2 linked regions of the Homo sapiens genome follow. The protein of the gene in region 2 purifies or fractionates together with the protein of the main gene of each other region. This does not show direct contact. Each region holds a gene or a part of one and is shown on either strand. Other genes may lie near its edges.

What was found.
Region 1: the proteins of TMED7 (region 2) and DGAT1 purify together in Homo sapiens (affinity purification with mass spectrometry; one large-scale study listed by BioGRID and IntAct). This does not show direct contact.

The regions. Positions count from the first base shown.
Region 1 is NC_000008.11:144,316,853-144,320,352, forward strand, and holds part of DGAT1 (diacylglycerol O-acyltransferase 1), read right to left. Parts: intron 2,217-3,500; coding exon 2,176-2,216; intron 2,069-2,175; coding exon 1,983-2,068; intron 1,900-1,982; coding exon 1,847-1,899; intron 1,715-1,846; coding exon 1,609-1,714; intron 1,511-1,608; coding exon 1,409-1,510; intron 1,318-1,408; coding exon 1,243-1,317; intron 1,166-1,242; coding exon 1,062-1,165; intron 971-1,061; coding exon 932-970; intron 861-931; coding exon 819-860; intron 737-818; coding exon 692-736; intron 594-691; coding exon 481-593; intron 464-480; exon of another isoform or gene 401-463; coding exon 335-400; intron 258-334; coding exon 170-257; intron 64-169; coding exon 1-63. UniProt on the Homo sapiens protein: Catalyzes the terminal and only committed step in triacylglycerol synthesis by using diacylglycerol and fatty acyl CoA as substrates. Highly expressed in epithelial cells of the small intestine and its activity is essential for the absorption of dietary fats.
Region 2 is NC_000005.10:115,622,307-115,628,474, reverse strand, and holds the start of TMED7 (transmembrane emp24 domain-containing protein 7 precursor), read left to right. Parts: upstream 1-2,438; 5' UTR 2,439-2,682; coding exon 2,683-2,874; intron 2,875-6,168. Other genes in the region: TMED7-TICAM2 (TRAM adaptor with GOLD domain isoform 1 precursor), read left to right, coding at 2,683-2,874. UniProt on the Homo sapiens protein: Potential role in vesicular protein trafficking, mainly in the early secretory pathway. Appears to play a role in the biosynthesis of secreted cargo including processing and post-translational modifications.

The DNA of each region.
Region 1 (3,500 bases), on a different chromosome or scaffold from region 2:
CTGAGCCATCATGCCCGTGAACGCCCAGAGGCGGAACATTCGCAGAGGGACGCTCACCAGGTACTGAGATGGGAGGGAGAGAGGATGCCAGGGAGTGGGGTGTCAGCCGTCCCTGCTGTGGGCATACCCCTGCCCAGGGATGAGGCAAGATGCCCCCCAGAGCACTGACCTCGTGGAAGAAGGCCGAGGCCAGGAACACCCCTGTCCTGGCCATCCACTTGCTGCTGCCCCGTCGAAGCATGGGCTTGTAGAAGTGTCTGCAGAGGAGGGGGCATGGAAAGCGGTTCAGGTTCACAGCCATGTTCCACATCACACACACACACACCCCACCTACCTGATGCACCACTTGTGCACAGGGATGTTCCAGTTCTGCCAGAAGTAGGTGACAGACTCGGAGTTCCTGGGGGCCAAGAGACCACAGGGGGATCAGAGCACACCATGGCCCATCCCAGCCCCCAGGGACACCCCAGGGACACTCACCACCAGTCCCGGTAGAACTCCCGGTCTCCAAACTGCATGAGCTCAGCCACGGCATTCAGGCAGGAGTGGAAGAGCCAGTAGAAGAAGATGAGCCAGATGAGGTGATTGGGGACCTGGCAGGGAGGTGGGGGTGGGCACCAAGTTCTAGAACCTTCCCCCACATGCCACTGTCCCCTCCTGTCCTGTGCATGCGCCACCTGTCCGCACTCACCGCCAGCTTCAGGAGGCGCTCGATGATGCGTGAGTAGTCCATGTCCTGCAGAAACAAGCCCTTCAGCTAGCCATGCTCCTGGTCACTCCCCAGCCACCCCAGCTGCAAGAGCACCTGAGCCACTCACCTTGAAGGGCTTCATGGAGTTCTGGATGGTGGGGACCATCCACTGCAAAGGAGGGCACCACGTCAGCTCCCAGCCATGCCCAGCTACACCCAACCCTGCCCTACCCCACTTACCTGCTGGATCAGCCCCACCTGGAGCTGGGTGAAGAACAGCTGGGGGGGAAACAGAGAGCAGCCAGCTGAGGCCCTGGCTAGCCAGAAGGCCCCCTAGCCTCCAGTGGCTGCCCCCAGCCCCCAACCTCACCATCTCAAGGATCCGTCGCAGCAGAAAGCGCTTCCGGATGCGGGGAGAGCGGGGAAAGTTGAGCTCGTAGCACAAGGTGGGGGCGAAGAGGAAGTAGTAGAGATCTGGAATGGGAATGGGGGGTTGGTACCAGAACAGGCCCAGCCTGTCCCCCGCACCTCAGGCCCACAGAGGTCCTCACCGCGGTAGGTCAGATTGTCCGGGTAGCTCACGGTGTGCGGGGCAGCAGCACTGCTGGCCTTCTTCCCTGCAGAGGCTACGAGCACAGCAGAGTGGGAGGGGGCTGGTGGGGCCCTGCTGCTGCCCAGCCCCCCAGCAGGCAGCCCCAGCCCCTGGCAGCCCCTCACCAGCCTTGGCCCTGGCCCTGCGGCACCATGAGTTGACGTCGCGGTAGGAGAAGAGCTTGAGGAAGAGGATGGTGTGCGCCATCAGCGCCAGCAGGGAGCCCACTGCAGGAGAGGTGGACTCAGGCCTCCACAGCGCCACAGCCGGAGGCCATGCCCGTGGCTGGCCCGAGACAGATGGGCAGGGTGGGATGGGGGCGCACCTGGAGTGATAGACTCAACCAGTAAGACCACAGCCGCTGGGAAACACAGAATGGTGGCCAGGTTGGCCACGTGCAGCAGCAGTCCCGCCTGCTCCGTCAGGGCACCCTGGAGTGGGGAGCAGAGCACTCAACCAGGGCTCCCATTGCCTGGGAGAGGGCTGCCAGGCCTGGGGAGCAGCTCCTCCCAGGAGCGCACACAGCAGGGTGAGCACACACGGAGGTGAGGGGCACTGCTTACCACCGCCAGGCGCTTCTCAACCTGGAATGCAGCCACAGCAAAGACATTGGCCGCTGTGGACAGAAGCACCAAGGGGCAGGTTTAGGGCCACGTCAGCCTGATCCCCACCCGAGGCCCTCCTCAGAGCCCAGCTCACCAATAACCAGGCATGGGGCGGGCCAGCTATAGGGATCCTTCAGGAACAGAGAAACCACCTGGATGGGGTCCACCAGGATGCCATACCTGGGGGTGGAGGGATGGGGGTCTGAGTGGGTGGCAGGTGGGGCTGTGGGGCGGGGCCTGGACAGGCCATGGGTGGGGCAGGGGTGGGACCTGGCAAAGGCACTCACTTGATGAGGTTCTCCAGAAATAACCGGGCATTGCTCAAGATCTGCGAGGGATGGACAGGAGGGTGCAGCCCCTTTAGTCCTGGCCACAGGGTACTCACCCCAGATCCTCCCAACACCTCTGGGCACGTCCCAGCCCGAGCTCAGGGCGGCAGCCTCAGGCTTGCAGACCCAGCCCTGTCTGGTCTCCATGCCAAGCTCTGAGACTCAGCACCCACCTCAGCCAACACCAGTGCTGGGTAAGGGGAAGTCCCTCCCTGTCCCCATCACACCAGACGGTCCCACATGGAGGGAACCAACCGGCCAGACCAACCAACCCTGCCAGACGCCTGGGTCTTCAGGAGCAGAAAGACCAGCTGCTGATCTGCTCACATCCCTCCTGCTGAGCCGAGCCAGTGAGGGACCCAAGGCTCCCACAGCCAACCACACCCCAGAGACAGCCCCAGAATACAGGCCTGCCCAGGGAGGCCTGCCCACGGCTGAGCCCCAAGGAACCAGTCCCTACTGGTGGCCAAGGCTGAAGAGGGGGAGTTGTCTACTCTTTCTCTGCAGGAGCAGTGTCCAGCTGTGTCGCAAGGGGGGCTGGGCCTGGAGTGCTTCCCAGGGCTTGTGCCCCGCCTGCCTCTTCTGCTTCCTGCCGCCCTCTAAGCCTTGGACACTTGGCTCCAAAGCAACTTCCCAGGACTGAGCCCCCATGGAATAAGGCTCTTGGGACGAGCCTGGAGTTGGGTGCTTGGCCTCCCTCTGCAAGGACAGGAACCTCCTCCTCCATCTTACAAGCACTACCAACACCTCCATTAAGCTGGGCCCCAATGCCGCAGACCTGGCTGACCACCCGGAGCTCGGGCCTCATGCGGTAGTGAACTGGTGCTGGGGAAAAGGGTCGCTGGCAAGGGAACACTGAGGGTGTCTTGCCTGGGTGGTCAGGGAAGGCTTCATGAGAGAGAAGACTGCTTCAGAGACACAAGGGCTACTGCCCCGCCTCCCCCGGCCGCAGGGCTGACACACAGGCCTTCTGCATGGACACGTGGCCCACACTGTCACTGGCCTCTCCCGAGGGCTGACAGCAGGCAGAAGCCAAAGCTGCCAATGGACGGTACCCACCTCCAGGCCCAGGCCACAGAAGGAATGCAACAAGCAGCCCAGAGCGGGATACATGCCTGGGGTGGGGGCATGGGGGAGCCAAAGCAGGGAAAAGGCTTCAGGGCTGGGCCAAAGGGCCAGGCAGGCCCAAGGGGTTGGGGAGAATACACAGTGCTGCCTGGGCTGGACAAGGCCCAACCTGGGCCAGGAATGGGCTGCGTCTCCTGAGTGCTGGGCTGGCGCTG
Region 2 (6,168 bases):
TAAACCCATTACATATTGCATTAGTTTCCTGAGGATCCCGTCACAAATTACTACAAATGTGATGGCTTGAAACAACAGAAATTTTTTCTCTCAGAGCTGGAGAGTCAAGAAGTCTGCAAGTAAGGTATTGCCAAGGTTGATACCTTCTGGAAGCTCTGAAGGAGAAGGTGTTCCAAGCCATTCTCCTAGTTTCCCATAGCGATGGGCAATCCTTGGTGTTCCTTGACTTGTGAACATATCATTCATTCCAATCTGTATCTTTGTCTTCAGTATGCCATTCCCCTCCCCCAACCCTGCCCCTGTATCTTTGTGTCTGTGCATCTCAAATCTTCCCTCCTCTTATAAGGTGTGTTAGTCCATGTTCATACTGCTATGAAGAAATACCCAAGACAGGGTAATTTACAAAGAATAAGTTAAATGAATTGATAGTTCCACATGGCTGGGGAGGCCTCACAATCATGGTGGAGGGTGAAGGCACAGCAAAAGCACGTCTTACATGGCAGCAGGCAAGAGAGCGTGTTCAGGGGAACTGCCCTTTATAAAACCATGAGATCTCATGTAGCTAACTACCTGTTATAAAACATGAACAATGTTTATAAACATGAATAATGCATTATACGTGCATTATATGTTTATAAACACAAATAATGCATTATAAACACAATACTGCTTTATGGGAAACATAAATGAATGGGAAGAACCCGCCCCCATGATTCAGTTACCTCCCACCAGGTCCCTCCCATGACACATGGGGATTATGGGAACTACAATAAAACCATCAGATCTCATGAGACTTATTCACTATCACCAGAACAGCATGGGAAAAATCTGCCTCCATGATTCAATTACCTCCCACCGGGTCCCTTCCGTGACATGTGGGGATTATGGGAACTACAATTCAAGATGATATTTGGGTGGAGACACAGCCAAACCATACCATAAGGATAACAGTCTTTAGATTTAGGGCCCACCCTAAGTCCCAGGATGACCTCATCTTGAGGGCCTTAACTTAATTACATCTGCAAAAGCCCTATTTCCAAATAAAATCATATTCACAGGGGTGGAGGGGTTGAAACTTGGACATGTATTTTTTAGGGGGACACAATTCAACTCACTGCACACATTTACATAAATAACACATCTTTTAATAAAAATATTTTCGAAATAAAAATTTAGCAAGAAGAGTGACCTTATTTTTGTAAATCTTTCATATCTAGATTTAAGGAAGAAGCTGGGTGCTCATTTCCTTTGATATTCAATCTGTTATGCTGTTTTGGTTGAAATATATAATGAAAATCCAGCTTCATACAGATCATTACATACCCTCTGAAAGGGTTTCAGGAGGCTTCTGGGGACTTCAGAGCAACACTTGAGAACCACTGCTCTAAAGCATATACTCCATAAATATATGTAAAATGGAATTTCCAGGCTGTGGCTACATATTCCAGGCTATATATATATATATATATATACATATATACACACACACACACACACACTGTATATAGGTGTGTGTGTTCTGTGTGTGTATACATATATTCTACTTTATTAGATAATGGCACATTGTTTTCCAACTTGATTAACCAATTTACTTTTTCACTAGCAGTGTATAAGAGGTTTTGTGGCTCTATAAGTCGACCAATATCTGTTATTGTTACACTTAAAATTTTTGCCTATCTTGTGGTATGTAATGTATTGATTGCACTGTGACGTTTAATTTAACAAAAGTTCATCTAGTGCTTGCTATGTACCAACCACTTCTAGGTACTTTTTCCAAATATTGGTACTTTGTAATAATTCTCTATGGTAGGTGCTATTATCTCCATTCTACAGATACACACTGAGGCAGAGAATTTAAGCAAGTGGCCGGACGTCACACAGCCAGTACGTGGCAAAGCAGGGATTAAGCACTCCTGCAGTCTGCTCTTAGAATTCGCGCTCCTTGCCCAGCTGCTTCCCCCAAATATTTATTATTACTTATGAGAAAACTCCGCAAATTGCAAAGCGCTCTACCACCAACGATTAGCACCCTAGGGCAAAATGAGCCCTTTACCACTCCCTAGATGCTCCCCAGCGCTAAGTTCCCAGCGGAGGTTGCAGTGAGCGCAGATCGCGCCACTGCACTCCAGCCTGGGTGACAGGGCGAGACTCTTGTCTCAAAAAAAAAAAAAAAAAAACAACAAAAAAAGCCAGTGATTGGAGCGTAATTACCCTCGCCAACCGCCTGTAACCACGGCGGCCGCCACGCCCCGTTTCCTGGTCTCGCCCCTCTCCGCCCACGACTCTGGCCCCGCCCCTCGTCCCAGGCTGCAACGGAGGCAGAGCCAACGCCTCGCGGGCTTCCACGTACGCACTCCAACGCGTGTTCCCGGAGAAGAACGCATCCGGGTCACGGGAGCCGGTGTCTCAGGCTCCGCCCCTTCACCCCCCGAAAGGCTAATCCCCACTTCCGACCCTCTCAGGCCTTTTCCGCTTCTCTTTTACCTCCCCAGGTCCGCCCGTCTGCGCCCCTCACAGGAAGCCGGAGGGTCGCTCTGATCCCGAATCTCCCACAGGCGTGAACCTGCTCTGCTGTGTATCTTTGCGGGGTGGCCTGCGCTGAGGCCTGCCGCGCGCGGTGAGTCCGCGCAGACCTGACCCTGCGTCTCGCAGCTCGGTTGAGGCCGCCGCCGCCTTCTCGGGATGCCGCGGCCGGGGTCCGCGCAGCGCTGGGCGGCCGTCGCGGGCCGTTGGGGGTGCAGGCTGCTCGCACTGCTGCTACTGGTGCCTGGACCCGGCGGCGCCTCTGAGATCACCTTCGAGCTTCCTGACAACGCCAAGCAGTGCTTCTACGAGGACATCGCTCAGGGCACCAAGTGCACCCTGGAGTTCCAGGTATCAGGGGCCTAGCAGTCCCTGGGCCCCAACTCGCGGCTCCAGGATTGGGGGTGTAACTTGAGGGATGGCACTTTCCTGTCCGTGTTTCCCCGTTCTTAGGCTAATTCAAAAATCGCTTCTAGGTAGCTGATGCCCAGCATTTGACTTTCCTCTAATAAACCTTGGGTGAGAGATGTTAAGACCGGGTGTTAAAATATATGAATTCCAGAAATGCTCCCTTTAGCATTTCTTTCCATCTCATTTTTAAGGCCTATTGAACTTTCTTCCTTAAAAGATTCCCTTAAAGAAAATCATTTATACTCTGTAGTACCCAGTGTCAACCCTCTACTCTCTAATCCACACCTCCAATTTAATTGGATTTGGAGTGCTGCCAATGTCTAACTTCATTGCTTTTCAGTTTTACCAATATTAGGACTGTTGGTTAATACGGTCCTTGTCATTGGAAGAGCTCCATTACAGGTTGAACGGCCATTTGCCAAGGGAGTTGTAGAAAGAATTGCTGTGATAAATGAGAGGCCCCTTCTGATATTTGGGATTATATAAAAAAGAAACTTTAACAGAATGTGGTTTATTCGGTTGGTTAGAACAGTCTTTACTGAGCTTCAATTTTGGTTGGTAGGCGCATTTAACATTTGAGTAGCTATTGAATACTAGGTGCCAGTGGTACAGAAGTGGTCGAAACAGATAGGGTCACTGCCATCATTCATGATTCCCCTCTCACCCTGCTTTTCTTAACTGGTATCTGCTCATTCATCAGAACTGTGCCTTAAGAGCAGTAAGTAGGATCCATGAAGGAAGACTTCCTTTGGAAAATTATTTTAAGCTGAACTTTAAAGGATGAGCTATAAACACCTTGGTAAGGGAGGAGGGGGAATAGCCTGTGGTAGTAGTGAACACTGAGAATTTCAGGGCCATAGAGAGAGGTCCAATATGGTTGGGAATAAGGAGCCAGAGCAAGGGGGTCAGCAGGGGCAGGCCAGATAGTGTCTTGCTGACCATGTTAAGGATTTGTTTTTCCTGAAAGTGTAGGAAGCCATCAGAGGGTTATAAGCAGTTCAGTGATATGACGAGAATATTCTTGGTAGCTGCATTAATAATAACTTGTGCAGGTAGAGAAGTGATGGTAAGATGTTGCAGAGCGGATGTGGAAGGCTGATTAGGAGGTTATTATGGTGGTCTAGACAAGAAATGATAGTGGCTTAGAGTAGAGTGATAGCAGTGGGGTAAATGAAAAGTGAAAGGATTGGAGAGAAGGTAGTAGGTAGAATCAACAGGACTTGGTAATGATTTGGCTATAGTGGGTCAGGGAGGGGAGGCCAAGGATGACCCTTAGGCTTACTTACCTTCATGGATTAGCACCAGGGGACAGAAAAGAAGATAGCAGGAATTGTGATAAAAAGTATAAGCCGACATTTTCTTTGTTTGAATTTAATAAACATTTCCTGGATTTTTGTGTATGCAGACTCAGTGATTAGTGCTAAGGATACTACTACAATGGCTAACAAATTAGCATCTGTTATGTGTAGACAGTATGTTAAGCATTTCAGGTATGTTCTCAGGAAAGCCCGATATGAAATTGTTATAGCTCTTACTCCTTTTTTACTGATGAAACTGAGGTTTAGATAGGCTAAGAACCAAGGGCATAAAACGTAGAAGTAGCTAAATCAGTAACGCAGTCCCAAGTTAAATTCTTAACCACTTTATTATACTACCTCCCAGAGACTGACTTTGATCTCAGAGAGCTTACACAGACATATATAGTCATAAAATGTTAAATGTGACAATAAAGGTACACACTAGGTATAGTGCTGGCAGGAGACAGAAGGATCATCAGGGGACATTTAGCTGAGGAGCTGATGTTAGAGGTGAGTCTGCAAGATAAGTAGCCGTTGCTCTACAAGGCGGCAGAGGAGAGAAGAAGGGGCCCCAGGCAGATATGTTCATGACAGTTCCAGCAGGCCTGAAATTAGCCTGAGCTATATTGCTAACATTTGTGCATGGCATTGAAAATACACTGAATAATAATAGTTTTGTGACTATAGTTATATTTATTAATAGTCACAAAACTATTATTATTAGCTTTAATATGAAGCTATTATAATAGCTTTGTGACTGTGAGTCCAAGGGCTTTGGGGGCAGTTTGTACCAGTTTGTCAACATTATTTATTGGTAACAATGAGATTGATGATTTGCTCCTGGTCTTCATGAGACCACACCCCCAACCCAGAGCTCTGTTGTTGAGACTAGCTGCGTAGCAGGAATATGCCTATGTGACCAGCAAAATATTTAAAAATGCAATCAGGACTCTATTTTGGGTTGCTTGGTTCCAGGGTGTTTTCTTTGCACACTTGGGTGGTTCCAGATCTGAGAGAGTATATGTCTGGCCACACACCTAACAAAGGGAAGCCGAAGGAGCCCACACCTGACCTTTTCAGATCTCTTGCTGTGAGGCAGCCTTTGGCTGTAATGTTTTATATTCTTTTCCTTTTGGGGCTCTTTTCAGTCCCAAGTTAAATTCTTAGCCACTTTATTATACTACCTCCCAGAGACTGACTCTGACCTCAGAGAGCTTACATAGACATATATAGTCGTATAATGTTATAAACTGTAGATTTATAACATAACCTACAGTAATAAACTGTAGATTTGCAAACACTGTCATTTTGATCCGTGTGATTCTTTAGCAAACCCTGTTGAACTGCACTGTCAGTGCAGATGTAAAGCAAAGACTTGTTCAGAGAATTTCTGGTAGTCTGGTATTTTAGGAACATAGAACGAGTAAGGGTGTGAATAAAAGAGGTTCTGAAGCTACCTGGGAGGAAGAACATGTGAATAGTATACCATTGTTAAGAGGTTTAGATTTGTCTGCAGGCCACAGGTAATTATCAAAAAGTTTTTAAGTGATTGCTCAATGGGGAATGAGGAAAGATGGGGAGATGGGCACCCCTTCTTCCCAGGAGACATTCGGCATCATTTTAGGAGAAGGGCAGCTACCTGCATCTAGTAGTTAGAGACCAGGTATGCTGTTTAACGTGTCACAGTGCACAGGACCATACAGCCTCCTACAACACAGAATTATTCAGTTCAAAATGGGAATAATGCGAGGTTGAGAAACCCTGAGTTCGAGGGAGAAGATATTGGGTAGTGGGAAGACCTTTTAGGAAGTTGTGGCAATAGTCCTGTCTGGATTGTGGTTTCGGAATGCGATGAATTTGAGAGGGGCAAAAAGATTGAGAGATTTGTGTGATCATATGGATAGATAGGGACAGTTAGTTTGGGATGATCCTCAGT